4 separate regions of the Homo sapiens genome follow, and regions 1, 3 and 4 are each linked to region 2. Evidence: fine-mapped expression QTL. A gene starts in region 2. Each other region holds a variant in brackets. All regions are shown on one strand. Distances are from middle to middle. Region 1 overlaps CLCN7 (chloride voltage-gated channel 7). Region 2 holds the start of CCDC154 (coiled-coil domain containing 154). Region 3 holds the start of CLCN7 (chloride voltage-gated channel 7). Region 4 holds the start of UNKL (unk like zinc finger).

Region 1 (7,264 bases), 22 kb after region 2:
AGGCAGAAGGACTGCTTGAGGCCAGGAGTTTGTGATCAGCCTGGGCAACATAGTAAGACTCCATCTCTACAAAATATTAGCTGAGTATGGTGACATGCGCCTGAGTCCCAGCTACTTGGGAGACAGACAGGAGGCAGAGGCTGCAGTGAACCATGATTGCACCACTGCACTCCAGCCTGGGTGACAGTGAGACCCTGTCTCAAAAAAAGAGAGAGAGAGAGGGAGGGTATGACGTTGGACCCTTACCTCACACCACATCCAAAAATTAACTCAAAAGGGATGAAAGACCTAAAACTGTAAAATTCTTAGGAAAAAACGGGTCAGTCGTCATACTCTTGGGTGAGGCAATGGTTTCTTAGATTTGACACCAAAAGTACAAGCAACACAAGAAAAAACAGATTAGCTGAACCTCAGCAATACAACCTGTGCGGGGTGTGATGCACCTGTGGTCCCAGCTCCTCAGGAAGAAGCTGAAACGGGAGGATTGCTTGAGCCTGAGAGATGGAGTTCAGCCTGGGCCACACAGTGAGACCTCATCTCAAAGAATAGTAATAATTAATTTTTTTAGACAGGGTCCCGTCTGTCACGCAGGCTGAAGTACAATGGTGTGATCATGGCTCACTGCAGCCTCAACCTCCTGGGTTCGATCAATCCACCTGCCTCAGCGTCCTGAGTAGCTGGGACCACAGGCGCACACCACCACACCTGGCTAATTTTCGTTTTTGTTTTTGTTTTTTGTAGAGACAGGGTCTCACTGTGTTGTCTAGGCTGATCTCCAAATCCTGGGCTGCAGCCTTGGTTTCCCAAAGTGTTGGGATTACAGGTGTGAACCACCACACCTGCCCAGAAAAAAAAAAAAAAATTTGAGGCAGGATCTCACTCTGTCACCCAGGCTGAAGTGCAGTGGCACCATCTCAGCTCACTGAAACCTCCACCTCCTGGGCTCAAGTGATCCTCCAACCTCAGCCTCCCAAGTAGCTGGGACTACTGGTGCCTATCACCAGGCCCAGCTAATATTTATATTTTTTGTAGAGACAGGGTTTCACCATGTTGATCAGGCTGATCTTGAACTCCTGAGCTCAATGAATCCATCTGCTTCCCAAAGTACTAGGATTACAGGCACGAATCACCTCCCTTGGCCAAAACTTTTTTAATTAAATAAATTTGAGCAACAAAAGACACCACTGAGAAAGTGAACAGAAAACCCACTGAACGGGAGAAAACTTCTATAAATCATGTATTGGATGAGAGATTTGCATCTATGTATAAAGAACTCCTGCAGCTCAATTATAAAGACAACAAACCCAGTTTAAAAATGAGCATAACCAACACGCGTGTGGCCGGCCAGGCACCCGCTCCAGGGTTGAGACAGGAGAGGACTGATTGCTGAATCTCACGTGCTGGCTTTTTCCCTTCTCTCCCAACTCCTGCCCCTCCCAAAGCTGACACCAGAGCAAAGGCTTTGAAGTCCAAAAAGGCAGTGCCGAAGGCGCCCACGGCCACGAAACAGATCTTCCGAAGGCCTTGTGGCTCCAGAGGCAGCACAAACGTATCAGAAGGGCAGCCCCGGAAGAGGCGCTGCTGGCTGTACAGGACGGCATCTGAGCACGGCGCCGGCCTCGGGAGCGACTGCGGCAGAGCTCAAACGGACGCAAGGCCGAAGAGCACCCGGACAGGTGGACTGTGAGATGCCTCAGCCTCTGACGTGGCCCAGGGCAGAGCCAGGTGGGGCCTGATGGGGAGAAGGAGGACGCCCGGGGTGTTGCCAACATCAGGATCATCTCAACAGGAGTCCCGCACAGACATCTACCCAGAGACGATGAGTGAACGGCCAGCGGCAGCAGAGGACTCCCGGCCTCACCAGCGGCTGGGGGAAAAACCGAGGCCGGCGGGAGATGCCCCCGAGGGGAAGGAAGACGAGCACGCTGCCGCTGAGCTCAGGACTCCCAGGGCAGCCACTGGCACGGGAACATCTAAACCCCTGCCCTCTGAAGTCAGAGGCATCCGGCCCCCTCTCACTCTCCTGGGGCTCCTCACTGCCCCCCCAAGATCCCTGTCCTTGCCCTGTCCCAAAGCCAGGTCCAGCCCCCTCGCTGCCCATGCTGTCACTGCTGTCCTGACCGGCTTCCTGCGCCCTGCACTCCTCCGTCTGAGAGCACTTCTGCCCAGCTGCCTCTGCTCACTTGGCGTCAGGGACCATGTCCCCCCAAGGAAATCTTCCCTGAACCCCGGCCCTGGGGCCCCACTATCTCCCTGCCGCTCGGCCCGTGCCCATCCCTGTCACCCTCTGCTAAGATGCAGCTAGCTCTGCGGGAGGACGGGGAACACCCCCAACTCACCGGGTCCAAAAGTTCATCATCCAGCTCCACGCTGCTCATATGTCCGACTCGGAAAAGCGCAGAACGTGGTGACTAAAAGCAGAAGAGAAATCATGAGGGCGCTCAGGCGTCGCACGCTCTGCTCCGTGGATTCTCACTCCCGCCGCCGCACCCTGGCCTCGCCTGACCCTGCCCGGGAGCTCAGGAATGGGCTAGGCCAGGCCTGCCTGCTGGGTGGGGGCAGCAGGGCTGGGACGGGCCTCCCTGGGCCCTGGAAGCAGAACTGATCCGGCTGCCCCTCGGCCTGTCAGCGACACGTCCAGCCCGAGTCCAGGGCGCAAGCTCCCTGCTCTAGACTGAAAGCGAGGCACCTGCCACCCACCAGGAAAGAAGGGCTGGACAACACGCCGCCCCCAATGCAGTGCCCGCCACAGCACCCTGGGCCATCCTGCCCAACCCTGCTCCCGAGGCCCTGCTCAGCCACCTGCCACCTCCACAGAGTCACCTCCACTGCAGCCTCTCTGGGTCTTGAGACACAAACGGCTCCACAGTGTTCACGCTGCCCTCCCCACAGGACGCCCAGCTGTCAGGCAGAGCTGGGTGGGGTCTCAGCCACCTAAGGCTTTGCGGCCGCCCCAGCTCAGGGCAGGGGCAGGGCAGCGGGCCCTGGGTGGCGTGGTGCAGATGTGACTTACGGAGCTCCCACCCCAGTCTCCGGCTCCTTACTAGAGCCAAGGCGCTGAGGCCAGGCTAGGAGGAGCCAAGACCTCAGCCTCCTTTCCCCAAAGAGATCCTTTGGAGACGACTCCAATTTCCACTATCTCCTGAATCTTTAGCAACATCTGGGGACATGAAGGGAAGAAGGGCTGCCTTCCAGGTGGAGGGACCGCATGCGCAGGGCGCCCGCCATCTGCATCAGAGAGCCCGTGCGCCTGTCAGGAAAGTGTTGGCGGAGGAGTCCAGCGGCTGGTACCGGCCGTGGGAAGACCAACGAGGCTGCCGCCCGCCTTCCCTGGGAGCAGCCCTCCCGGCCCCCAACGCCGTCCCCTCCTCATCCCCCCATCTCTCCCTCCACCTTCCTCAGGCTCGGCCTCCCGCACCAGGTTTCAGCAGGGCCTGGAAGTGCTTCTTGGTGATAGAACGGCAGGTGATGGCGCCAGGAGCCCACAGGGCCGAGGTGGGGACGGGGAGACGTGCAGGAACGGCCTGCACTGGGGCCCAGTTTTCCCTCAACCTCCACCTATCCACGGGGATCACGATTACCACACACAGGCAAGGACACAGAAGCAGAGAAGGAAGGTTTGGGATCTGAGGTCACTGCGAGCCAGGGGTGGGGGTCCTGCTTTCTCTGGAGTGCTCACCCCTGAAGGAGACGGGCTCCCCAAACCGCCATCCCAGAAACTGCCTTCAGAACCAGACCTTCCCGGCGGGGTACAGTGGCTCATGCCTGTAATCCCAGCACTTTCAGAGGCTGAGGCGGGCAAATCACTTGAGGCCAGGAGTTCGAGACCAGCTGGGCCAACATGGCGAAACCCCATCTCTACTAAAAATACAAAAAGTAGGCGGGCTACTTGGGAGGCTAAGGCGGGAGAATCGCTTGAAGCCGGGAGGTGGAGTCTGCAGTGAGCTGAGATCGCACCACTGCACTCCAGCCTAGGTAACAGCAAGACTCTGTCT[CAAA/C]AAAAAAAAAAAAAAAAAAAAAAAAAAAAGAACCTGACCTTCCAGCCCACTGCCCTCCAGGGACCCCTTCCCCAACCATCGTCCTGTTACCAGCCACCGTCGCCCTTGCTGTACACCCCCCGTGTTGATGACCCGGTAAGTGGCCCTGGCAGGGGAAGGAACCTGGGCACGTGCCACTGGCCCTTGGCAGACACCAGTCAGAGCCTCCTCCTCTCCCCAGGCAAAGAGCACTCTCAGGCCATCCCCATCAAAAGCCAGGAGCAGAGGCCAGACAGACAGACAGACAGACTCGCAGGTGTCTGCCGTGGCATCTCCACGCCCAGGGGAGAGTGTGGGAGGGGCTAGAGTGCACAGGTCCTGCTGGACACAACCCTGAGTCACAGGGCGCCTGCCCCTCCTCTTCCCCCAGCCTTGCCACATGCCAGTGGCTCTCCCTGAGCCCTCAGTCACAGGCGAAACTCACAGCTTGAGTCTCCTGCCACACGGGCTGACGGTGGGAGGAGGAAGGTGCCACGGTCCAGGCATGATGGAAGCAGTGGCCTGGCCAGCTGCCCACTCCCTCTTGCTCACACTCACATCAAAGCCCCTGGACTCCAGGTCTCACCACCAGAAAACAGCCCTGGGACCAGCGCTGGGCCTCTGACCCCCACCTCCCAGGTGGACAGGTGCCCCGATGCCCCAAACAGAGACCACGGAACCCAAAAGACCCATTTCACCATGAGGAAGGACCCCACGTCCAAACAGGCACCCTGTGGGACACACCCTGCCCAGAGGGCCACCCTCTCCATCACTCAAGATGTCAGCACTTCTCTCTAACGCCACTCAAGGCCTGCCGTGCTTCTCAGGCTATTCCTTGCTGGAAATAACGGATCATTCTGGCCGGACGTGGTGGCTCACGCCTGTAATCCCAGCACTTTGGGAGGCTCAGGCAGGAGGATCGCTTGAGCCCAGGAGTTCAAAGCCAACCTGGACAACGTAGTGAGACCCTGTCTCTACAAAAAATCAAAATCAGCAAGGCATGGTGGCGTGTACCTGTGGCCCAAACTACTCAGGAGGCTGAGGCAAGAGGATCGCTTGAGCCTGGGAAGTCGAGGCTACAGTGAGCTATGGTTGCACCACTGCGCTCCAGCCTGGGCAACACGGCAAGACCCTATCTCTAAAATTAAAAAAAAAAACCCAAACAAAACGAAAACAGCCACAGTCACATGTCCTGGGCGCCAGGCCTGGGAGGCCTTGAGGAGGGCCACCGTCTACACCACGACAGCACTGTCCCACAGCAGCAGGCAGAGCCGCACATGCATTCAGGCCAAGGTGAAGGCTGCCGGTGCAGTATGTGACCAGCGGGCCACCCCCACCGCCGCCGCCTTGGCAGATCCGAGAGGGGTGAGGGGTGAGGGGTTGCCCCCCAGCAGGGCATCAGCTGCCCCTGCCCGGAGTGAAAGGATGGGGCTCCGGCGCCTTGCCTTCCCAGCATCTCTTTCCTTAACTCTGCCAGGACTTTGAGAAGGTGGCTTTCGTAATGGAAGAACACGACGTTTACTTCAAGTTCAGCAATGCATTCCGTGCGGTTACTTTCTTTTTTAAATGCAAGCTCTTATAAATTAAACACTAGATGCTGTTCCTCAAACTCCTGCCACACACGGCAACCTACACGGTCCCAAGCGCCGGACACTAACTAAAAACAGACAGGCTCAGGAACACGTGAGCCAACACTCCCGAGAGGCGAGACTCGGGCCGGACGGGAGGCGAGGTCATCAGGGTTGGGAGTGGGTGGGACTAGAAAGATGGGTCTGAAAATAGCCTGCACCCCCTTCCTGGTGCTTACGCGGATCTACACGCATTGCACCGACACTCTCTTGGTTTTGGGGCTGCGCTGTTACGGAAAGGTAAACATTGGGGGGAAACTCGGTGAAGGGTACACAAGCCCCCTGTGCTACCTTTGCTGCTTCCTGTGAATCCAGAGTGATTTAAAAGTCAAAAAAGGGCTGGGCACAGTGGCTCACGCCTGTAATCCCAGCGCTTTCGGAGGCCAAGGCGGGCAGATCACCCGAGGTCAGGAGTTCGAGACCAGCCTGGCCAACATGAAGCAACCCCGTCTCTACTTAAAAAAAACGAAAAAAAAAAAAAAAAATTAGCCGGGCATGGTGGTGCACACCTGTAATCCCAGCTACTCGGGAGGCTAAGGCAGGAGAACTGCTTGAACCCGGGAGGTGGAGGTTGCAGTGAGCCGAGATCCTGCCACTGTATTCCAGCCTGGGCAACAGAGCAAGACCCTGTCTCAAATAAATAAATAAAATAAAACAAAATAAAAGTCAAAATAATGTATAGAGGGGAACTACATCAAACTTTAAAACTTCTACACATCAAAGAAAACAACAGAGCAAAAGGTAACCTATGAAACGAGAAAATATTTGCAAATGTGATAAGGAATTAATATCTGATAAGGGATTAATATTCAGAATACATAAAAAAACTCAGGGTCAGGGGAGGTGGCTCACGTCTGTCATCCCAGCACTTTGGGAGGCTGAGGCGGGCTGATCACTTGAGGTCAGGAGTTCAAGACCAGCCTGACCAATGTGGCGAAACCCCAACTCTCCTAAAAATACAAAAATTAGCCGGGCATGGTGGTGGGCGCCTGTAATCCCAGCTACTCAGGAGGCTGAGGCAGGAGAATCACTTGAACCCAATAGGCAGAGGTCGTGGTAAGCTGAGATCACACCACTGCCCTTCAGCCTGGGCGACAGAGGGAGACTCCGTCAAAAACAAAAACAAAAATAAACAAAAAACCAAAAACCAAAAACAAACATAAAAAAGCAGCGTCTGAAAGTCCCACTTGCACGCCATGTTCACAGCAGCACCGTTCACAATGACCAAAATGCGGAAGCACCTGCTGTGCCGATGGATGAGTGAGTCAAGGAAATGCAGCCTCTCCCCGCAATGGAATAATTCAGCCATAAAGAGGAATGACCACCGACCCGTGCTGCAGCACGACGGGCCGGAGGACACTGTGCCCCGTGAAATAAGCCAGTCAGAAAAAGACAGCTCCCGCAGGTCCACTCGCAAGAGGGCCCTGGAGCCGTCAGGTCCCCTGAGGCAGATGGCAACGAGGGGGCTGGGCAGCAGGAGGAAGGGAGAGCGTTGAATGGGTGCAGTTTCAGTTTGGCAAGGAATGGGTTGTGTAACACTAAGAGCGTGCTCAACCCTACTGACTGCACTCACGGATGATTAAACGGTCATTAAACAAAATGTTTTTTAGAAACAAGGTC
Region 2 (7,264 bases):
GGCACCACCACGCTCCAGCCTGAACAACCAGGCAATACCCTGTCTCAAAACAAAAAACGAGTGTCGGCCTGGCTTTGCTGCCTCTGGCCCTAGAGAGCACTCAGACACCCGGACTCAGGGAAAGGCAGACGCCCTCATGAGCGGCAGCTCCCCCACACCTGGCACCTTGGGAATCCTCAGCCCAGCACCCCTGCCTGCTCCACACGGCCACTCAGTAACTTCCTGAAGGGCAGTGAGAGGGAGGCTGCCGGCTCCGGGCAGTGGAGCTATGTGGGTGGCAGCTGGGTGCCCCGGCAGTCCTGGCCCCTCACCCAGCGTACTGCCTGATGCGCACGGGAGCTGGCTGCAGTCCCCGGTCTCTATTTGTGGAGCTCAGACCCGGGCTGCTGAAATGTGCAGCTGCCCGTTCCCTCCCCACCCACAGCGGAGGCCCCTGCTGAGGCCACAGCAGGAGGGGGAGCCACTCCAGCCCCGTGGGTGGGACCCTGGCTTCTAGGAACTCGTGTCCTCGAGGAAGGTGAACTCCGCTTTGTGTGCAGGGAAAGGTGGAGCCCGAGAGTGGCCGTGGAAGGGGCTTCGGGGCTGCGATCTGTGGACCCGGGCAGGCGCTGGCTGTGTGGGGAGGGGTGGAGGCGGCAGGACACAGGCAGCTTCCTGGGACGAAGAGCGCCCAGATCTGCAGCTGCCGGCCCCACGTGGCAACTGAGCTTTTTTTTGAGATGAGGTCTCGCTGTGTTGCCCAGGCTGGTCTTGACTTCCCAGGCTCAAGCGATCCTCCCGCCTCGGCCTCCCAAAAGTGCTGGGATTTACAGGCGTGTGCCACTGCACGTGGCCTGAGCTTTTGTTTTTTTGTTTTGTTTTGTTTTTTGAAATGGAGTCTCACTCTGTCACCAGGCTGGAGTGGCGCGATCTCAGCTCACTGTGACCTCCTCCTGCTGGATTCAAGCAATCCTCCTGCCTCAGCCTCCTCAGTAGCTGAGGCTACAGGTGCCCGCCACCACACCTGGCTAGTTTTTTGTATTTTTAGTAGAGATGGGGTTTCACCATGTTGGCCAGGCTGGTCTTGAACTCCTGACCTTGTGATCTGCCCGCCTCAGCCTCCCAAAGTGCTGGGATTACAGGCGTGAGCCACCGTGCCCAAACAACCTGAACTTTTGAAATGGGGCATGTGCGGCTGAGGAATTGAGTTTTACATTGTCTACAACTATAGCTGATTTCAGTGGACACAGATACATGGTGAACGGCCGCTGTATCGGATGGCACAGGCCGAGAGGGTTAGGGTCTCCTCCTCGGCCCTCTGGGCGGCCCCCCTGAAGCCTGGGCCTGGTGGTACCTGCATTCTGGCCACCTCCAGGTCCACCCTCCGGCTGCTGTCCTCTTGGTTCTTCTGCAGGGCGCCGCAGGCCACCTCCCGGCCCTGCTCCTCCTGCTGCAGCAAGTCGGTCAGCTTGGCCAGTCTAGAGAAGTCGGCTGTGGTCACACCAGCCCAGCTGGCCGGAGGGCCCAGCAGGGTGAGGCTGACCCACAGGCTGGCCAGGCAGGAGGTGTACGACCCCCGCCCCCTGCCCCACCAGAAAACAGAGGAATGGGAAACACAGCACCGGTGGCAGGGAAGGGCTGCTGCGAGTCTCTTCCCCACAGAGGGTCCGCAGCGGGCCCAGGCTTCCCAGCACGCTTGGCACCGAGGGCGGTGCCCCGCCGGGTTACTGGGGACACACGGCAGGGGGACCCGTGTCTTGGCTCAGCCAGGGACTCTCAAATGACCCCACGCAAGCTCCGGAGCCAGCCACGGGCGGTGGGCGCCCACCTGAGGCCGGCCTCTTGCTCGGCGCCCCTTCTCTCCGCCTCCTGTTGCACCTGCCTCCTCCTGAGCCGGGTCAAGGCTTCCCGGACCTCCACCAGCCTGGGACACAACAAGCCATTCCCGAGAGGCCCAGGCGGGCTGAGCAGCCTCGGCGGGCTGGGGGTCTGGCCAAGGGGCCCCTGTGGCCACCTCCCATGGCTTTCCTGGGCCTCTGAAGGCCGCCCAGGCACGTACAAACCCGGCCTTTTCTAGCTGGACCTGGATGTGTATCCCCCACTCCAGCGACACCCAGCGGGAGATGTGGACCCCCCACCACACCTGCCGCTGCTTTCTCGCCACCACCTCCCCGCCCTGGGCCTGTGCCCCTAGGTGTGTGGGGGGTACCTTTTGTCCAGGGCCTGCATCTGGTTCTGGAGACCAGAGAACTGCGAGGAGGAAGAGGAGGCTGTGGGCTGGACCTAGGCCCGGGTCTGGCACCTGCCCCTGGAGTCCACCCAGCTCCGGCACCACTGGCCCCTGGGAGCTCTGGGCCTGGGCAGCAGGGGTGAGCTGGGCTCCAGGCCCAGAAGCAGCTGCCCCCAACACCCAGGAAAGGGGCAGCTCGACCTGTGGGTGGGGGAGCCGCTCACCTCCGGCGCCTCCTTTTCGGGGGCCTGGGCTGCCGGCCGCGCCTCCTGCTGCAACTGCCTCAGCTCTGAGCCCTGCAGCTGCACGCGGGCCCGCACCTGGAGCAGCTCCCGCAGCAGGCTCCGCGTGGCGCGCTCACAGCGCTGCTTGTGCTCCCGCAGGCAGGCCACCTCGGCCTGCAGCTCCACCACCCTGGCCGGGGCGAGAGTGGGCGAGTCTGGCGGTGCCCGCCGTGGAGGCGGAGGCGGCGGCGACGTGGTCCTCCCCCGCCAGCACCCCCTGCAGGGCTCACCACTGCTCCAGCTGGTTCCAGTGCTTGGCGGTGTCCTGCTCGGGGACAGAGGCCGTGGATGTCGGATGGCTGGACTCATACCTCTCCGAGAGCTCCTCCAGGCTCAAGGGCTCGGGGCTGGCCAGGCCTCCTGCCAGGAGGAGCCCCAGGTCTTCCAGGGTGACGGCTCTCAGCTGGGAAGGGGCCGATGCCCCTGAGGGTCCACTGTCAGCCAACTCTACAAGGAGGCATCTTGGGAGCTTGCCCCTTGGGGCCCGGCCCCCACTGGAGCTTACGGGAACAAGGCCCCAAACCCCCGCAGGACCCTCGCCCACCACCCAGAGCTCAACGCGTCTCCTTGGGTCACACAGGATCCAGACGGGCTTGGCTCAGACAAGTCCAGGGCCCTGCCTGAAGACACACAGCACTGGGCGGCAGGAACAAGCGAGCTGGAGGGAGCCCGGGGTCAGAAGCAGAGCGGTCCCCACCCTCACACCTGTGGCAAGCCCCTCCCTGGGCCCCGCTCCTCCGCTCTGGTCACCTGACATGGCTGCTGGGCTGCACCGGCCACCCTGCCCTCGGCTGTAGCTTGGGCCTTGGGGCCTCTGAGGTTGCCCAGAGCTGGGCACAGGCCAGGGGGGTCAGGAGCCAGAGGAAGTCCCGTGAGAGCTCTGGGCCTTGAGGGACGAGCTGCTGCCCTCGTCTGGCTGCCTTCTCAGGGTCCCCAGGGAGGCAGGTGTGGGGCAGCGGGGCCGTTCCAGAACCTTCCTTCTCTCCCCAGAACCTCACGGCTTCACAGCCCAACTGCCAATGGAACTCTAGCCCTCAGCTCTCCCACTCCCGCAGGGCCCCCCAACTGCCTGCTTCTGGATGGATCTGAGGGGCCCCACTCCCGAGAGGGCGCAGACACGTGTCCTCTGGCAAAGGGGACTTCTTCAGCTGCCGAGGGAGGGGAAGGAGGCCCTGACGAGGCCTGGGCACGCCGGGAGGGACGCTGGGAGCAGGGAGGCCGAGAGCCCCAGGACACCCCGGACACAGCCAGGCCCACGTCCGAGCGGAGCCCGAGGCCTGGGCAGCGCCATCGGGGTGAGGGGCACAGCCGGGCTCCACGGGAACCCATCTTGCTCAGCAGCCCCATTAAAAGGCAAGAAGCAGCGATGTGAATCCTAACCGCTGATTTTATTTAACCGAATATATCCAAAATATGATCACTTCCAGGTCCTCAGTACACAACCACCACGAGGGAAACCCAGACCTAGGTTTCCGGCGCCGACTCTGAGGCCCGGGAGTTTTCTTCTTGCGTCACCCCAGCGTGGGCACCCCGGCCCGCCCCCCTCCACCTGGAGCGCCTCTGCCTTGCCCCCAGACCCACCAGCCAGGAGCCAGAGGAGGGAGGCTGAGGGGCGGGGACGAGGAAGAGGATGTGGCTGGTGCCCTGGGTGGCCGCAGCCGCTGTCTTTCACGCCTTTCTCACTCCACACGGTGCCCCGACCCCAGGGTCCCGAAAGTCCCAGGCTGTTGGACGTGGTCTGGGTGGGGTGGGAGGGACGACGCTGGCAAAGGCGGGCTGAGAGGATTTCTTTATTTCGCGTTCAGACCCAACACACTCGGACACCTTGGGGCCCTGTGAGGGCTAAGCAGGGTGGTGGCGTCAGCTCCCGGGGAGGCCCCACTCCCTGGGGAGGAAATACACGGCAGGGGGCCGCACCCAGCCCCCCACGGAGGGACCCGTGTTGCTCTAACAGGGACACTGAAGTTGCCTCTGCCGCCCCGTGAGGGGCCTGTGGCGGCCCCAGACCCAGCCCAGCCAGGCCAGAGGAGCCTCCCAGGGGCCCTCAGGTGGTGAGGTGGGGGCTTCCCGGCCCCGGTGCCCACCGGCCCTTCTAGCTGCCTGTGCTGGGCCAGGTGTCCTCTGAGGCCGGCAGGAGTCTGGCCCCCGCTGCACCTGCGCTTGGTGGCTGGCAGGGGCGGGGTAGGGAGGTCACCCTCGAGGCCGGGGTCCCCATGTGCTAGGGGAAGACCTGCCTTCCCAGCCAGTGTCCACAGGGCAGCAATTCCACGCTCTGAGGCTCAGGGACCAAGGCAGGGCTGGGTGTGGGGCCCAGACTCCAAGCTCTGGGGGTTGGGGGACCAAGGCAGGGCTGGGCATGGGGCTCAGGGCCTTGGAGGTTTTTCTCAGCTCTCAACATCACAGCACAGGGCCCGTGAGTCACCCCAGTCCTCTGGGCCTGTGTACCCAAGCCGGATGCAGGCCGGGGAGTGCACGTGGGGCTCCTCTGTGGCGCCAGTGTGAAGCTGCTCTCCGGGGCGGTCGCAGCCTCCAAACCCTGGTGCTACGAGTCCGTGCCTCAGGCCCAGGGACCACAGGCCGTCTGCTCATGGCTGAAAATGAGGCCAAGCAGCTCCCAAGTCTCGAAGACTCCACTGGTGTGGAGGCAGAGGGGCCCTTCCAGGGCAGGGCAGCCCTCGGGGCAGCAGCAGGGGCAAGGGCTCTGTCTCACGCACACGGGCACAGGCACGCAGGTGCCGGCCCTGCCGCTGGCTCCCAAGAGGCCGATAGCCCGGTAGGGAGGTCACACACACACAGCTGATCCCTGGAGGTAAAGAAACCTAGACGAGGAGAGTGGAGGCTGGGCCTGCGCAAGGAGGCGCCAAGGGGGGAGACCACTGCCCACAACAGGGTCAGTCCCGCGAGAGGGTCAGTTCCGCGCCTGCCGCCTGCCCGCCCAGCTGCAGGGTGCTCGCCATTGCCACTGCTGGGGAGCATGGTTTGGGCCGAGAAACCAGTGACTCCGGGAGGAAATGCAGAAGGGCCGGGGTGCCAGCGCCAGTGCCCATTATGGGCAGGGCTGGGCCTCACGTCTGGGCCAGCGAGAGCTCCTCCAAGCCTCTCTTTCCCAGGCGGTACCTGGCGAGGTCCTTCCTGGTCACCAACCCGACAACCTGCAGGACAAGTCCAGGCCACAGTGACACACGGGTCGGCTCCCGCCTGCCTGTGGAGCTCCCTGCCTTGTGTGTGGCTGGGGCAGCACAGGCAGGGGGCCCTGGGGGCTTCAGCACAGCCCCCGAGCTGAGCACGGGGCTGGGGAGGGGTGCAGCCATGGGGCATGGGCCGACTCGGTGCTGGGTCCTGTGCTTCCGTGTCCCCTGCCGGGAGCTGAGAGTAAGCACGGGCAGGAGGCAGAGGGGAGCCCTGCACGGCATGCCTGCACCCCCACCGCCCCCGCTCACCTGATTGCGGTTGTCCACCACCACCAGGTGCCGCAGGCCCAGGGCCCGGAACAGCTTGAACACCCGTGGGAGCGACGCCTCCTGCAGCAGGGGCACAGCTGTCAGTGCCCGCCCACACAGCAGAGGCAGGCGGGACCCTCACCCAAGCTGGCTCCCTGCACCCCCCACCACGGCGTCCAGGCACGTCCTGAGCCCCCACGCCCGTCTGGCCAGCCCCCTCAGCCCCTTGACTTCAGCTCTAAAGCCTGCCAGGCCCTTCACAGGAGACAGAGTCACCGAGTCCTCTCCGCTGTGGCCCCCCCCGGCTGCCCCTCCCCGAGGCTCTGGACCCCACCCCCTGCTGTTCAGTCCCAGGCCCCACGCCCATGCCCATGCCCTGCACATGCCTGGGGCACCGTGTAGGGGGAGGGGTTCATGAACTCGGAGAGGTCCATGGTGCACTCCCGCTCGTCCTGGGACACGTGGATGGACTGGATGGGTGGGAAGCGCGGGTAGGCGTCTCGGAAGTCCTTCAGCCTCAGGCGCCGCTGTACCAGGCCCAGGTTGGACCGCTCCACAAACACCTGCGGGCGGCAGAGCCCTGTGTCAGGCACCCAGGCAGCACCCCCGGGGCCCCCACCCGCCCAATGGCCCGGAGCCTGGCACGCACCTTGTGCTTTAGGAGAACGATGAGCTGGGAGCGCAGGATCAGGCCCTGGAGCCGGGCAGGCTGCAAGACAGGCCCGCGGTCAGGGCCACGGGCCCGAGGGTGGGAGGCTGCGCTGGAATGCTGTGTCGGGCCCCGCTCTGACCCTGTTCCGGCCAGATTTCCCATCTGGGCATGGGCCCCGTGTCGGTGGCTACCTGCTCACACCAGCCTCGCCATGGCATCCCACACGCACAATGCCACGGGACCCAAGGATCGGCGACAGGGTAGCGGGGCCTGACCGCGCACAGCAGAGAGCCAAGGGCCCAGGGATGGTGGCTTTGCTGCAGGGCAGATGCAGCCCCACTGGGTCCCAATAAAAACCAACCTCCAAACACCCAGTGTCCACGTCTAAAAGACACACAGCAGTGGCCGAGCTGTGTGTCCTGTCAGGGCCTCCTGACAAAGTCACGGCCCCCAGTGCCACGGCTCTCAGCCCAGCCTGGGTGCCAACCCCAAGACCCTGCCAGGCCGCAGCCCCCCCCACCAGCCTCAGCGTCCACACAGCCCTCCATGGCTGCACACTCAGCTTCCGGCACTCCTGGAACTGCCAGTGCACCCAAACGTGCAGCTTCCCCATCCTGCAAACCTTGCCGTGTGCTTCCCACCAATGGACTCGACAGAGGTCACATAGGCAGGACCCTGT
Region 3 (7,264 bases), 31 kb after region 2:
GCAACAGGGAGGCTACAGGCCTTGCAGGAGGCCATCGGCGAGTCCGATGCTCAGAGCACAAACGCCTGGCCTAAGAGGTGGTGTCTTGGCCTCTAGACTCCGCCTCTCCAGTCTGTCTGCAGGGGAAGGCTGGGGCCCTTCAGGAATGGGGTCCTAGCTTCCCATGGGCTCCCCTAGAGATGAGCCAAATTCAAAGCCTGTTCATGTGCGCAGCAGGGCTGACCTCCAGGCTCCACAGCGCATCCCAAACACACACTCCCTCTGTCCTTTCCCCCCGTCCGCCTGCCTGAAGATCTTGTGCTCTTCAAGCCCAAGCCTTGTGACTGCTCCTGCCCCAGGGGCCCTGCAGACCATCCGCACAGGGCACTGGGCCTGTCTCCAGCAGGAAGGAAGCAGCTTTATGCGCCTGCGTCCCAGGCAGCCACAGAGCAAGTGCACGATAAACTATTTTTTAAATTGCTTGTAAGCAGAGTATCCGCTGTTATTAAATGCAAACAAACAAATAAGCTTACAATGACTTTTAAGGGAATAGTTTTTTTATTTTTATTTTTGAGATGGAGTTTTGTTCTTGTTGCCCAGGCAATGGCGTGATCTCGGCTCAGTGCAACCTCTGCCTCCTGGGTTCAAGCGATTCTCCTGCCTCAGCCTCCTGACTAGCTAGGATTACAGGCGCTCACCACTATACTCGGCTAATTTTTCTATTTTTAGTAGACATGGGGTTTCACCATGTTGGCCAGGCTGGTCTCGAACTCCTGACCTCAGGTGATCCACCTGCCTCGGCCTCCCAAAGTGCTGGGATTACAGGCATGAGCCACCGTGCACAGCCGGGAATACTTTCTAAGGTTAAGAGATCAACAGATTATTTCCCAAAAAATCAACTCTTCTATTTGCAAAGACAGACAGGAAACCCCAAGCACATTCAGTCCCAAGAGAAACTCAAATTCAACCTCCATCAAGGTTCCTAATCTTTACCTTTCAGCCCTTAAAGTTGGGTTTATTCCTTCTACCTTGTGAACTTCAGATTTCTTTAATTAAAAAAATTTTTTTTAAATTTTTTGAGATAGGTTCTCAAACTCCAGCCTGGGCAAAAGAGTGACAAACTACCTCGGAAAAAAAAAAAAAAAAGCACCTCACTGCAGCTTCAACCTCCTGGGCTCATGCGACTCCTCTGCCTCAGCCTCCCGAGCCAGTAGCTGGGACTACAGATGCATATCACCACACCTGGCTAATTTTGTTTTTTTTTTTTTGAGACAGGGTTTCACTATTTTGCCCAGGCTGGTCTTGAACTTCTGGGCTCAAGTGATCCTCCCCTACCTTGGCCTCCCAAAGTGCTAGGATTACAGGCATGAGCCACCACACCTGGCCTTTCTTTTAAAACAGAAACACACACACACACACACAGAGGCATACACATACACACACAGGCATACACACAAATAACTAATCACCCATGGCCCCATCACTTCAAATTAACCCCTTCAGATCACTTTTCATGCAGACTACAGCACGGAGAGCAGGAGGGCCCACTTCAAAGGGAGCTGAGCTGCTGCTTCTTATCAGCAAAAGGCAGACTATGACCTTCTTTGTCTGGTGCGTTTCTAAGGAATTGGGAAAACCTAAATGTAGGTTCTATGGAAACAGGCTGATTTTCGTGTCCTTCCTAAACTTTTTTTTTTTTTTTTTTTTTTTTGAGACGGAGTCTCGCTCTGCCCAGGCTGGAGTGCAGTAGCGCCATCTCCGCTCACTGTAAGCTCCGCCTCCCGGGTTCAATTGATTCTCCTGCCTCAGCCTCCCGAGTAGCTGGGACTACAGGCGCCCGCCACCACGCCTGGCTAATTTTTTGTATTTTTAGTAGAGACGGGGTTTCACCATATTAGCCAGGATGGTCTCAATCTCCTGACCTCATGATCCACCCGCCTCGGCCTCCCAAAGTGCTGGGATTACAGATGTGAGCCACCGTGCCCTGCCGTCCTTCCTAATCTTTAAGCACAAGACAAGTGTTTAAAGGACTAGACAAGAGAAAATGTAAAGAATAACTGCAAAGCAGATTAAGACCCATCAACAAAACGGTCCATTAACTCAAAAGTAACACAATACGGCCAGGCGCAGTGGCTCACGCCTGTAATCCCAGCACTTTGGGAGGCTGAGGTGCGGGGGATCACGTGAGGTCGGGAGTTCGAGGCCAGCCTGACCAACACGGAGGAACCCCGTCTCTACTAAAAATACAAAATTAGCCGGGCGCGGTGGCGCACGCCTGTAATTCCAGCTACTCAGGAGGCTGAGGCAGGAGAGTCACTTAAACTCGGGAGGTGGGGGTTGCAGTGAGCCGAGATCGCGCCATTGCACTCCAGCCTGGGCAACTACAGTGAAACTCCGTCTCAAAAAAAAAAAAATATTAAGACAATACACAGACAGGGAAACAAATGTACCCGCAACGGTTCTCCAGACCTTAACACTGCTCAGACGCACGCTGCAGGGTGACATGCGGAACGCATTCCAACCTCTGACTTGCTGCTTATTGTGTTTGCCTGCACATTGCAAATTCAACTCGGTGCGAAGGGAGACTGAGTACAAATACTCGTCACTCCCAAGATCACCTGAAAGTCGGGACTGATCCCCACACAGAAAGATGGCAGATAAAGGCGCTCAGTCATTCTCACTGAAAGACAGTGACCCGGCTGCAATCTTAACTGTTTCCATCTCCCAGGGGGTCAAAAACGCAAACAAAATTAGTTGCTCGTGTAGGATGACAATTTTTAAAAGTCACCTGAACAGAAAGCCACTTGCACCCCTTTAGGGCCAGTCTGGGGGACACCGGAGGGAATGAACGTGCGCCACGGCTGCCCCGGCGCCCCTCAGCGCCCCACATTCCGCGGGGTCTGGCGAGCTCCGCCTCGCCCACGCAGCCCTCCCGGCCACCGAGCCCGGCGCGGCCTCCGAAGACTCCAGACCCCAGGCGCCCCCGCCAGCCCGGCCCCGCCGAGGAGCCCCGGGGCGCGTTCCCGAGTCCACCGCGCCTCGGTCGCCTCCAGGACCGAGACACGCGGCGCCGCCAGAAGGCTCACGAG[G/GGCGC]GCGCGGGCTGCGGGGCGCACGAGGGCTCAGTTTCCCCGCCTGCGCCCTGCCCGGCCTCACCTGGCGCGCAGCCCCAGGCCCAGCCCCGTTCAGCAGCGGCGTCCCCCCGCCGGGCCGCGCCGTCCTCCGCAGCAGCGGCGCCGCCTCCTCGTCGTCCCGGTCCCGGCCGGACCAGGACACCTTCTTAGAGACGTTGGCCATGGCCCGCCGCGGAGCGACACCGGCCGGGAAGCGCCGGCTGCCCCCGTGTTTGTTCTCGTGACCCGCGCCGGCGGCCACGTGACGCGCGACGGGGCCACGTGATGAGCGACGGCGACCATGTGACCTGCAACGGCAACCACCGAGGCCCGGTCGCGCGGGGGCTCCTGGGAGCCGCGCTCCCGGCGGGTCGTGGCGCCGCCCGCCCTAGAGAATCGCCGCGGCCCTGAGGACCCCGTTCTGCCCACGCGACTGCAAAGGCGGCCCCGTTGGGCTGAGCGCCGAGTGCTTGGGAGGCGAATGGCCGCCCCCGGGACCTCGGGCCCGGGAGTCGGGGCGAGGGAAGCGCCCGGGGCCTGAGGGCAGGAGCCGGCTGGAGGGGCTCCCCCAGGCCCGGTCGCCCGCGCCGATCGTGACGGAGCCGCGGTGGGGAAGGGAGGAGGGAGGCAGGGGCGAGGGCAGGCCTTTCCTTGCCATAGGCGGCGGCTAAAGACGTGAAGGATGAAATTAGAAGTCCCGAAGCATGCATCCGCCCTCGCAGTAGGCACTCGGGCGAGGGTCGGAGTGGAGGCTTCCTCCAGGCAGCCCCAGAGGGTCCTCCCGCCTAATGAGAAAAGAACAGAAGGCGAGTCCTCTTCAACGATCAGGCCCCAGAGACAGTACAGGAGGGTCGCCTCTGGAAACTGCCGGCTACTACGCAGATAGCTGTGAATTAGCCAAATAGCCGCCCGGACCCTGTACCCGCACCAGGGCACAGCCCATCACTAATCAATGGTATTTCCATAAACCAAAGAGAATTCTTGACAGCTTTACATCAGCCCCCACCCTGTCCCCACCTTCTGGGTCATTTATTTATTTATTTTGAGACAGGGTCTCCTTCTGTCGCCCAGGCTGGAGTGCGGTGGTGCGGTCACAGCTCAGTGCAGCCTTGACCTCCTGGACTCAAGCCATCCTCCCGCCTCAGCCTCTGGAGTAACAGGGACCACAGGCCTGCACCACCACACCCGGCTAATTTTTGCTGTGGAGCTCACAGTGTGTTGCCCAGGCTGTTCTCAAACTTCTGACCTCAAGTGATCCTTCCACGTTAGCCTCTAGAGTAAACTCTTTATATTTTGTGCCTCATCCTCTTCCTTTTAAAAGGTCGATATTTTTATTATTGAGACGGAGTCTCACTCTGTCGCCCAGGTTGGAGTGCAGTGGCCCAATCTCGGCTCACTGCCTCCCGGGTTCATGCCTCAGCCTCCCGAGTAGCCGGGACTACAGGCGCCCGTCACCATGGCCGGCTAATTTTTTGTATTTTTAGTACAGATGGGGTTTCACTGTGTTAGCCAGGATGGTCTCGATCTCCTGACCTCGTGATCCACCCGCCTCGGCCTCCCAAAGTGCTGAGATTACAGGCGTGAGTCACGGTGCCCGGCCTTTTTTTAAATTATTATTATTATTTTTTTATTTTTGAGACACAGTCTCACTTTGTCACCCAGGCTGAAGTACAATGACAAGATCATAGCTCACTGCAGCCTTGACCTCTTGGGTTCAAGGGATCCTCCTTCCTCAGCCTCCTGAGTTGCTAGGACTCTTCGTATGAGCCACCATGCCCGGCCATGGTTGGCATTTCTTTTTTCTTTTTCCTTCTTTTTTTTTTTTTTTTTTGAGACGGAGTTTCACTCTTGTCACCCAAGCTGTAGTGCAATGGCGCTATCTTGGATCACTGCAACCTCCGCCTCCTGGGTTCAAATGATTCTTCTGCCTCAGCCTCCCGAGTAGCTGAGATTACAGGCACCCGCCACCACACCTGGCTAATTTTTCTTTTTTTTGTTTCCTTTTGGTTTTTTTTGAGACAGAGTGTCGCTCTGTTGCCCAGGCTGGAGTGCAATGGCGTGATCTTGGCTCACTGCAAGCTCCGCCTCCCGGGTTCACGCCATTCTCCTGCCTCAGCCTCCCAAGTAGCTGGGACTACAGGCGCCCGCCACCACGCCCGGCTAATTTTTTGTATTTTTAGTAGACCCGGGGTTTCACCGTGTTAGCCAGGATGGTCTCAATCTCCTGACCTTGTGATCCGCCTGCCTTGGCCTCCCAAAGTGCTGGGATTACAGGCATGAGTCATGGCGCCAGGCCTAATTTTTGTATTTTTAGTAAAGATGGGATTTCTCCACGTTGGCCAGGCATGTCTTGAACTCCTGACCTCAGGTGATCCACCCACCTTGGCCTCCCAAAGTGCGGGGATTACAGGAATGAGGCACCGTGCCCGGCCCAGGGTCAGCATTTCTTAACGGTGAAGGGAAAAAAGAAACCTAGCAGGCGCCACCTGAACCAAGCAACCCAGTTCAGCATTGCTGGTGATGGGATAAGGTGGCATCGTGTGCCTCCTGATGTGATGCACCAGGAAGGACACAACGTCCCTTCCGGAGCATTCCTGCAAAACATGCTCACCTTGAGTCCACTCATAAAGGGGAAACACCAGATAATCCCACTTTGAGGGACAGCCTGCTGAACATCTAGGCCATCTTCTTCCACAATGTCAGTATTGTGAAAGAGACAAAGAGAGGCTGAGGAGACAACCTCACGTGGGTCTGGCATGGTTGAGACAATTGGCAAAGATTGGACATACACTGTATGAGCTAACGGTGTTGGAGCAGTAGTAAATCTCCCACGCGTGATCATTATATTGTGGTTACGTCAGGAAAGCTCCCCGATCTTAGGAGATACATACTGAAATACTTGGGACCTTGTGTTGCTATGTCTGCAGCTTACACTCGGACAATTCAAAACCTGACAATAATCATAATGAGTAGCAGCCTTCTGAGAGGGAGGGAAAATGGCAATGTTAACATCTGGCCCTTGGCTGTCTGCACCACCATGCAGCAGGCAAGAACGAGCACCTTAACCGAAGTGGCAGGAAGGGAGCCAAGAAGAAAGAGGTTGGTCCACTGTCTGAGAGAGACTGGCATGAGGCGAAAGCACCAGCTGTGCTTGGCATAAGGAGTATGGAAAACACCAGGCACAGGGACGTCAGGAACCAAAATCACACCCGATGGCCTCAAGGGCCGTGTTTTTGAAGTCAGTACTGCTCATCTGCAGAATGGTGAAGTTGCATCTGGAAAATTCAAGCTAATCACTGAGGATGTTCAGTGCAAAAACAGCCTGACCAGCTTTCATGGAAAAAAAAAAAGACCATGATTGAAGCTCATATGGTTGTCAAAACTACAGATGATCATTTGCCTCATCTGTTCTGTGCTGCTTTTACTAAAACAGTGCAGCAAGCAGATTGGGAAGACCTCTCACAGGCAGCACTGGCAGGCCCGTCAAATCCAGAAAAGATGGTGGAAATCATGGCCCAAGAGGTGCAGACAAATTACTCGAAAGAAGTGGCCCATGAATTGATGCTAGACAGCACTGGGAGAGACACAGAGAAGGTTCCCCAGTCTATCCAGGTATCCTCTCCAGGATGTCTTCCTTAGAAAAGTAAAAATGCTTGGGAAGCCCAGGCTTGCATTGGGAAAACTCAAGCTTTGTGGTGAAGGTCGCTGTCCTGGAAAAGCTACTGGGGATGAGACCAGTGCTAAATGTGAATGAGCTGACGGATATGAGCCCCCAGCCCAACAACCTGTTTAAAATTCAGGCTTTGAATGTTGATAACCAAACTAACATTTGACCCAGCAATCCCCTTACTGGGTGTATGCCCAAAGGAATATAAATTGTTCTATCATTAAAACACATGCAGGCCAGGCGCAGTGGCTCACACCTGTAATCCCAACACTTTGGGAGACTGAGGTAGGTAGATCACTTGAGGTCAGGAGTTTGAGACCAGCCTGGCCAACATAGTGAAACCCCATGTCTACTAAAAATACAAAAATTAGCCAGGTGTGGTGGCAGGCGCCTATAACCTGAGCTACTTGGGAGGCTAAGGCAGGAGAATCGCTTGAATCCAGGAGATGGAAGTTGCAGTGAACTGAGATTGCACCACCTCACTCCAGCCTGAGTGACAGAGCGAGACTCT
Region 4 (7,264 bases), 28 kb before region 2:
CCATTGCACTCCAGCCAGAGCAACAAGAGTGAAACTCCGTCTCAAAAAACAAACAAAAAAAAGTGGGAGGTGAAGCAAAATTGGTTTGAGTCACACAAGGGTTACCCCTAAAACACACATAATCCCTCGGGAACTGGCCTGAGAATAGGAAATGCCGCCCCAGCATCCCTGGTCACTAGAAAATTTCAGCGTATAATTACGACTCCCTCTGCAGGGGCCAGGTATGGACACTAAGGCGTCCGCTGAGGGTCCCGGCCGCATCCCCGGGTGGAGGCCCCCCACCTCCGCCCAGGCAGCGGCGCCCCCTCGCGGCCGCTTACTCGTCGCCGTCGGGGCACACGCCGGTGGCTTCGTTGTACTTGGAGCAGTACACGTCGGGGCTGTAGTTGAAGGTGCCGTCGCGCCTGCGGAGGGGCCTGCGGCGCCGCTGGTTGAGGAAGTGCCAGTGGAAGCAGGTGAACGGCCGGTGCTGCGCGCACTTGTGCTGTGAAAACAGGGGGCACTGCTCCGTCCTGAACTCCTTCAGGTACCTACAAACACAGACAGCGCCGCGGCTCGCTTCCGGCAGCACCTCCAGGGACTCGGACTCGTGGGCGGCGGGACCCACCGGCCTCAGGAGCCTCAACCCAGGGTCGACCCGTACTCACATTCCCGGCGGGCCCCAGGCGCTGCGCCCACCCCCATCCCGACTCCAGACGCGACCCTCACCCGACCTCGTAGCCCAGGCGCTGACCCTGGTCCCCAAGCCCAAGCGCCACCCCGGACCCTGGGCGACCCGCTGTGACCTCACGGTCGGCAGCCGGAGCAGAGGGTCCCGGTCCCCGAGCCCAGGCGCAACCCCCAACCCCGGGGCGTTCCTCCCTCCCCAGAGGCGCGTGGACCCCGGAACCAGGTGCCATCCCAGACCATGGGCGCCGCGCTCCGACCTCAGGCGGAGGCCGCCGAGAGCAGAGGGTCGTGGCCCCCCCAGCCCAGGCGCTGCGCGGAGGCCGGGGGGCGCGGGGGCGGCGGAGGCGGCGCGAGCCCCGGCGGGAGGCTCCGAGCTGCACCGGGCGCGGGCGGGGGGCCGCAGGCCGGACGGGCGCTGACCTGTAGTGGGTCGGCTTCTCAGTCTGCGGGGGGGACCCGCTCAGCGCCGCTGCCGCCGCTTTCGAAACCGACGGCATTTTCAGTCAAAACAATGCAGCGCGCATGCGCCGCGCCGGCGCCCCCGCCCCCGGATATCCCCGCGCGCCCCCGCGGCCACGCCCCCCGCGGCCCCGCCCCCAGCCCGCAGACCCCGGCCCCGCCCCAGCCCCGCGCCCCCCGCAGCCCCGCCCCCGGCCCGCAGACCCCGCCCCAGCCCCGCGCCCCGCCCTGCCCTGCCCTGCCCTGCCCTGCCCTGCCCTGCCCTGCCCTGCCCTGCAGCCCCCGGCCCGGGACGCTGGTCCTGCCCGGGGCCGCGCGTGGGACCCGCGATGGTCGCCCCTGCTGTGACATGACCCGACATAACCGTGTATTTTACATGAATTAATCACAAGAGTTGTATCTCAATAGAGCTGCTCTTCCACAAACGAACCAAGAGGCTGATGTCAGGGGGAGCCAGGCACCGGGCGGAAGGGCCAAGGGGTCCTGGCCTTTGTAGAAAGGAATTTGTTCCATTTCGAACCTTGACCTCAAAAACTTATACTCAGAGATTTATCTACAAAGGTAATTATCACAGTTATTTTGCAAACACTTGAGGTCCCCCTTCCCCCAACAGCGCAGTAGCTGAGAAAAGGGAAAACTCTAAGTGCTCTGCGTGATTTGAAACAGTGCTTCCGAAGAATTTTTAGTGGTAGGAGGCCGGGCGCGGTGTCTCACGCCTGTAATCCCAGCACTTTGGGAGGCCGAGGCCGGCGGATCAGCTGAGTTCGGGAGTTTGACAACAGCTTGGCCAACAGTGAAACCCCGTCTCTACTAAACATACAAAAATATTAGTGGGGTGTGGTGGCTTGCGCCTGTAATTCCTGCTACTCCGGAGGCTGAGGCAGGAGAATGGCGTGAACCCGGGAGGCGGAGGTTTAGTAGTGAGCCGAGATTGCGCCACTGCACTCCAGCCTGGGTGACAGAGTAACACCCTGTCTCAAAAAATAAAAAAGAAATTTTTAGTGATATGAAAAATGTGCCCATTGGCCGGGCGCGGTGGCTCACGCCTATAATCCCTGCACTTTGAGAGGCCGAGGTGGGCGGATCACGAGGTCAGAAGATCGAGACCATCCTGGCTAACACGGTGAAACCCCGTCTCTACTAAAAATACAAAAAAAAAAAAAAAAATTACCCGGGCGTGGTGGTGGGCACCTGTAGTCCCAGCTACTCAGGAGGCTAAGGCAGGAGAATCACTTGAACCCAGGAGGCGGAGCTTGCAGTGAGCCGAGATCGCGCCACTGCACTCCAGCCTGGGCAACAGAGCGAGACTCCGTCTCAAAAAAAAAAAAAAAAAAAAAAAAAAAAAACGAAAAGAAAAATGGGCCCATTTAGGTTGAAAGCAAATCACTTCCTACAGATTTGTTCCAAGTATCTCAGGGTTTTTTTTAATATTAATACTGTAAAACAACAAAAACTATCATTTGCTGGTAGGATAAATTTCTTCATAGGTTCACATTTTCTTTTTCTTTTGGCGGGGGGCGGGGGGAGGAAGGAGTTTTGCTCTTGTTGCCCAGAGTGGAGTGCAATGGCACGATCTCGGCTCACTGTTGCAACCTCCGCCTCCTAGGTTCAAGGAATTCTCCTACCTCAGCCTCCTGAGTAGCTGCGATTACAGGCATGCACCACCGCGCCCAGCTAATTTATTTTTCGTAGAGACGGGGTTTCTCCACATTAGTTAGGCTGATCTCGAACTCCCGACCTCAGGTGATCCACCTGCCTCAGCCTCCCAAAGTGCTGGGATTACAGGCGTGAGCTACCGCGCCAGCCAGGATCACATTTTCTTAATGAATTATCTCTACAAACATTACATTTAAATCTTAAAATGATAATGAAGAACATATTTTCAAGTGAAGTCAAGCAGGAAAATGAAGTCAAGCAGGAAGGGCAGGGCCTGCAAATTCTTCAGAGACGAATAAACAGATCTTGAAGACTCCCAAGGTGCTAGGAATGGAAAGGGAGTCTAGGGTGACGCCCAGGTCTCTCGCTTGCAAGGATACAGAGCAAGGGAGAAGAAACAGGTTTGGGGGAGATGAATTCCATTTTGGAGTTTAAGGAGCCTGTGAGCTGTCCAGCAGAGGTGTCTAGGGAGCCTGCTAAAGCTAGGAAACAGATTTGGAGCCTTAGGGTTTAGGAATTTGGGGATCTTTGCTGTAAAGGTATGAGTGAAGACACCTGCTGTTCCTCCACACCCTGGGGGCATCTTCCTTGAAGAAATCAAAGGAAACTGATGTAAGACTTAAGGATTGAAAGTATCATGTTTTTTCATGCTTTGGAAGAAATGTTCTTTAAAGTCTAGGGTGGTACCTGAGTTATATAGACAGTTCATCAGCTTAGACGTGACCATTTGGTTAACACCTTCCTTGAAAGAATTTTTTGTTTTTGTTTTTGAGATGGTTTGGTTAACATCTTCCTTGAAAGA[A/AT]TTTTTTTTTTTTTTTTTTTTTCTGAGACAGAGTCTCACTCTGTCGCCCAGCCTGGAGTGCAGTGGCATGATCTCAGCTCACTGCAAGCTCCACCTCCCGGGTTCAAGCCATTCTCCTGCCTCAGCCTCCTGAGTAGCTGGGACTACAGGCGCCCGCCACCACGCCTGGCTAATTTTTTCTATTTTTAGTAGAGACGGGGTTTCACCATGTTAGCCAGGATGGTCTCGATCTCCTGACCTTATGATCCGCCCGCCTCGGCCTCCCAAGGTGCTGGGATTACAGGCATGAGCCACTGCGCCCGTTCAAGAATTTTTGTTTTAAAACAATTTCCGGCTGGGTGCAGTGGCTCACACCTGTAATCCTAACACTTTGGGAGGCCAAGGTGGGTGGATTACCTGAGGTCAGGAGTTCAAGACCAGCCTGGCCAACATGGTGAAACCCCGTTTCTACTGAAAATACAAAAAAAAATTGCTGGGCGCAGTGGTGCACGCCTGTAATCCCAGCTACTCAGGAGGCTGAGGCAGGAGAATTGCTTGAACCCGGGAGGCAGAGGTTGCTGTGAGCCGCGATCGTGCCACCACACTCAAGCCTGGGTGACAGAGCGAGACTCCGTCTCAAAAAAAAAACAAAAAAACAAAAAACAATTTCCACCTCCTGCCCAGCCATTTGTCATCTTAGGAATCGCTGCAGCTGCGTCTGTTCTAGCATGCTTACAATGGTCTCCCTCTCAAATGCTTATCTGGGGAGGTCAGTGTGCCATGTACCCTGGGGAAAATAAAAGCTACAGCCCAGTTGGGAAAACAAGACAAACACACTACAAAAATAGTTAAATACAACTGGGCGCAGTGGCTCCTGCCTGTAATCCCAGCACTTTGGGAGGCCGAGGTGGGCAGATTGCCTAAGGTCAGGAGTTCAAGCCTGGCCAACATGGTGAAACCCTGTCTCTACTAAAAATAGAAAAATTAGCCGGGCATGGTGGTGCACGCCTGTAATCCCAGCTACTCAGGAGGCTGGGGCGGGAGAATTGCTTGAACCCCGGAGGCGGAGGTTGCAGTGAGCCAAGACTGTACCATTGCACTCCAGCCTGGGCAACAGAGCAAGACTCCATCTCAAAAAATAATAATAAATACTAACTGTACTGAATTAACTGTTCACCTATCAACCTGCTCTGTTGCCATCCTTTGAAAACTCCAGGAGTAGGGAAGATCCGCCCACCATCCCCAGCTGGCCTTGGGTCTGTCTACGGCACAGGTGTGAGGTCAGCAACTGGAAAAGCCCTCCCAGATCGCTGCCCTGGAGGCACTTGGGATCTGCTGCATGTCTCTGAAACATGTATAGGTATATATGTATGAAAACAATTGACCGGGCGCAGTGGCTCATGCCTATAATCCCAGAACTTTGGGAGGCCAAGGCGGGCAGATCACTTGAGGTCAGGAATCTGAGACCAGCCTGGCCAACATGGCGAAACCCCGTCTCTACTAAAAATACAAAAATTAGACGGGTGTGGCGGTGCGTGCCTGTAATCCCAGCTACCCTGGAGGCTGAGGCAGGAGAGTCGCTTGAACCCAGGAGGTGGAGGTTGCAGTGAGCCAAGATGGAGCCACTGTACTCTAGCCTAGGTGACAGAGCAAGACTCAATCTCAAAAAAAAAAAGAGAAAACAATCTGGGGCCGGGCGCGGTGGCTCCCATCTGTAATCCCAGCACTGTGAGAGGCCGAGGAGGAGAGATCACTTGAAGTCAGGAGTTTGAGACCAGCCTGGCCAACATGCCAAAAGCCCGTCTCTACTGAAAATTTAAAAATTATCCGGGTGTGGTGGCACAAGCCTGTAGTTCTAGCTACTCGGGAGGCTGAGGCAGAAGAACTGCTTGAACCCAGGAGACAAGAGGTTGCAGTGAGCCAAAATTGTGCCACTGCACTCCAGTCTGGGAGACAGAGTGAGACCCTGTCTCAAAAATAAAAACAAAACAAAACAAAACAAAAAAACAAAAAACAATCACTTAGGTAACCCAAAATAGTGCCCATCATTTGTGAAAAGAAATACTCACTAGTTGTATTCTACTCAGAAAATGGTTGCCTTGCTTAAAAAGTTTTGCAGAAAACTGCAAAAGTTCCTCATTTCTGGTACTATTCGGTAATATATATGTAGGTTTCTTTCCTCAGTTCCCACTCTGGAAAAAAAAAAAAAAAGGAAAACGAAACTTTTTTTTTTTTTTTGAGACGGAGTCTCGCTTTGTCGTGCAGGCTGGAGTGCAGTGGCGCGATCTCGACTCACTGCAAGCTTCGCCTCCAGGGTTCACGCCATTCTCCTGCCTCAGCCTCCGGAGTAGCTGGGACTCCAGGGGCCCGCCACCACGCCCGGCTAATTTTTTGTATTTTTTAGTAGACACAGGGTTTCACCGTGTTGGCCAGGATGGTCTCGATCTCCTGACCTCGTGATCCGCCCGCCTCAGCCTCCCAAAGTGCTGGGATTACAGGCGTCAGCCACCGCGCCCGACCGGAAAAGGAAACTTTTAAAAATAGCTGCTGGTGCAACTAACTTACGTGCTCTGGTAAACAAGAAGAGATTAAAATAAAAAACAATAGCTGCCCAAATACCCCCTTTTTAAAAACTAGATGCAAAAAAAGGGAATCATCTAATCCCATATTATAAAATTAAAATTTATTTTCATTTGTTGTTGTGTAAAACTCACATGTGGAAGTGTTCCTTGCACAGGCCGCAGCATGCAATACAGTTTCACACTTCTGCCAGATATTCTATCTCAGAAAGCAAATTACCTGCAAACTAACACTGGATGACAAGTGTCACCAGAAGTGCTTTGGAAACATGATTATGTTATACAAAGACTTGGCAAATCCAACAGCATACAGTGCAACTGAAACCTTCCCCAAGGATCTGAGAAGTCTTGCCGATGGAATCCTTGGACATCAAGAGCCAGGCGAGGAGCAGTTTCCGATCTGCTGAGATTCTGCTCCGCCTTCACGCGAATCAGCATAGCCAAGTGCCCCATCCACCAGCCAAGTCCTTCAGTGCTGAGGACGCACGCATAGCCAGGACAGTCACGGGCAAACGTGACATCAAATCCGAAGGGCGGCTGTCGGCTCCCTTCCTGCCAGCCCCAGCGGGCACCCCGTCAAGTTCTCGCTCTGTAGGCAGCTGGAGTCTCAGGCTCCTCAGAACGATCACTGGGCTCTGGCACCTCTCCCCACACCTGTCTCAACCACTGGTCCGCCTCGCTCTCCTCCCTCAGGTAGCACCAGATGATCAGCGCCACGAGGAAGCAGCTGAGGGGCAGCACCTTCCACCAGGGCCGCTGATGTCCCTTTCCCATGGTATGGCCCACCGACCAGCGGTGAGGGTTGGCTTTGCTGGAGGAAAACTCAATGGGGCGGTCAGGGTCGTCCTCTTCCTCGGCGGCAGGGTGGGCCCGATCCCGGGAACCGGGCAACGGATGAAGGCTTCGGGAAGCCCAGCCTATGAGCCTCAGCGCCCGGACGGCCCTGGAAGAGAGAGAGCAGTAAGCGCTCCGCCCGCCCGCCGGTGTCTGCCCTCGGCCCTCCGAGACCTTGAGGAGCTCACCCGGCCGCCGGGGCACACAAGACACGATTCATTGCTGCCTTGACTCCTCGACTGACGCCTTGGCGCGCCGTGATAGCGTCACTTCCGTCGCCGGAAAC

The links.
Region 1: its variant is fine-mapped to the expression of CCDC154 in whole blood (INTERVAL, PIP 0.98).
Region 3: its variant is fine-mapped to the expression of CCDC154 in breast (GTEx, PIP above 0.99).
Region 4: its variant is fine-mapped to the expression of CCDC154 in monocytes after R848 (Quach 2016, PIP 0.95).

Annotation. Positions count from the first base shown.
Region 1 is chr16:1,462,928-1,470,191 of GRCh38, forward strand. CLCN7 (chloride voltage-gated channel 7) reads right to left here. Exons shown (of 25, transcript NM_001287.6): 2 at 2,340-2,411. Among named protein-coding and RNA genes, the nearest start is that of CLCN7, 8.5 kb to the right of the region's middle. The variant CAAA/C (reference allele first, on the strand shown) is at 3,996.
Region 2 is chr16:1,441,073-1,448,336 of GRCh38, forward strand. CCDC154 (coiled-coil domain containing 154) reads right to left here and starts at 3,484. Exons shown (of 17, transcript NM_001143980.3): 1 at 3,244-3,484; 2 at 2,724-2,940; 3 at 2,434-2,623; 4 at 2,189-2,229; 5 at 1,808-1,903; 6 at 1,334-1,457. The coding sequence starts at 3,250. CLCN7 (chloride voltage-gated channel 7) reads right to left here. Exons shown (of 25, transcript NM_001287.6): 22 at 6,583-6,642; 23 at 6,320-6,496; 24 at 5,934-6,014; 25 at 3,863-5,645. The coding sequence ends at 5,559.
Region 3 is chr16:1,471,705-1,478,968 of GRCh38, forward strand. It overlaps CLCN7 (chloride voltage-gated channel 7), which reads right to left and starts at 3,324. Exons shown (of 25, transcript NM_001287.6): 1 at 3,130-3,324. The coding sequence starts at 3,270. It also overlaps the pseudogene RPS3AP2. RefSeq lists silencers at 3,067-3,276, 3,397-3,746 and an enhancer at 3,284-3,827. The variant G/GGCGC (reference allele first, on the strand shown) is at 3,069.
Region 4 is chr16:1,413,526-1,420,789 of GRCh38, forward strand. UNKL (unk like zinc finger) reads right to left here and starts at 1,179. Exons shown (of 15, transcript NM_001372107.1): 1 at 1,090-1,179; 2 at 321-530. The coding sequence starts at 1,166. It overlaps UQCC4 (ubiquinol-cytochrome c reductase complex assembly factor 4), which reads right to left and starts at 7,222. Exons shown (of 2, transcript NM_001272051.2): 1 at 7,167-7,222; 2 at 6,227-7,087. The coding sequence starts at 7,198. The coding sequence ends at 6,721. RefSeq lists enhancers at 80-654, 655-1,229, 1,230-1,804, 1,805-2,378, 6,513-7,264 and 3 more and silencers at 174-323, 754-803, 1,344-1,463, 1,514-1,583. The variant A/AT (reference allele first, on the strand shown) is at 3,587.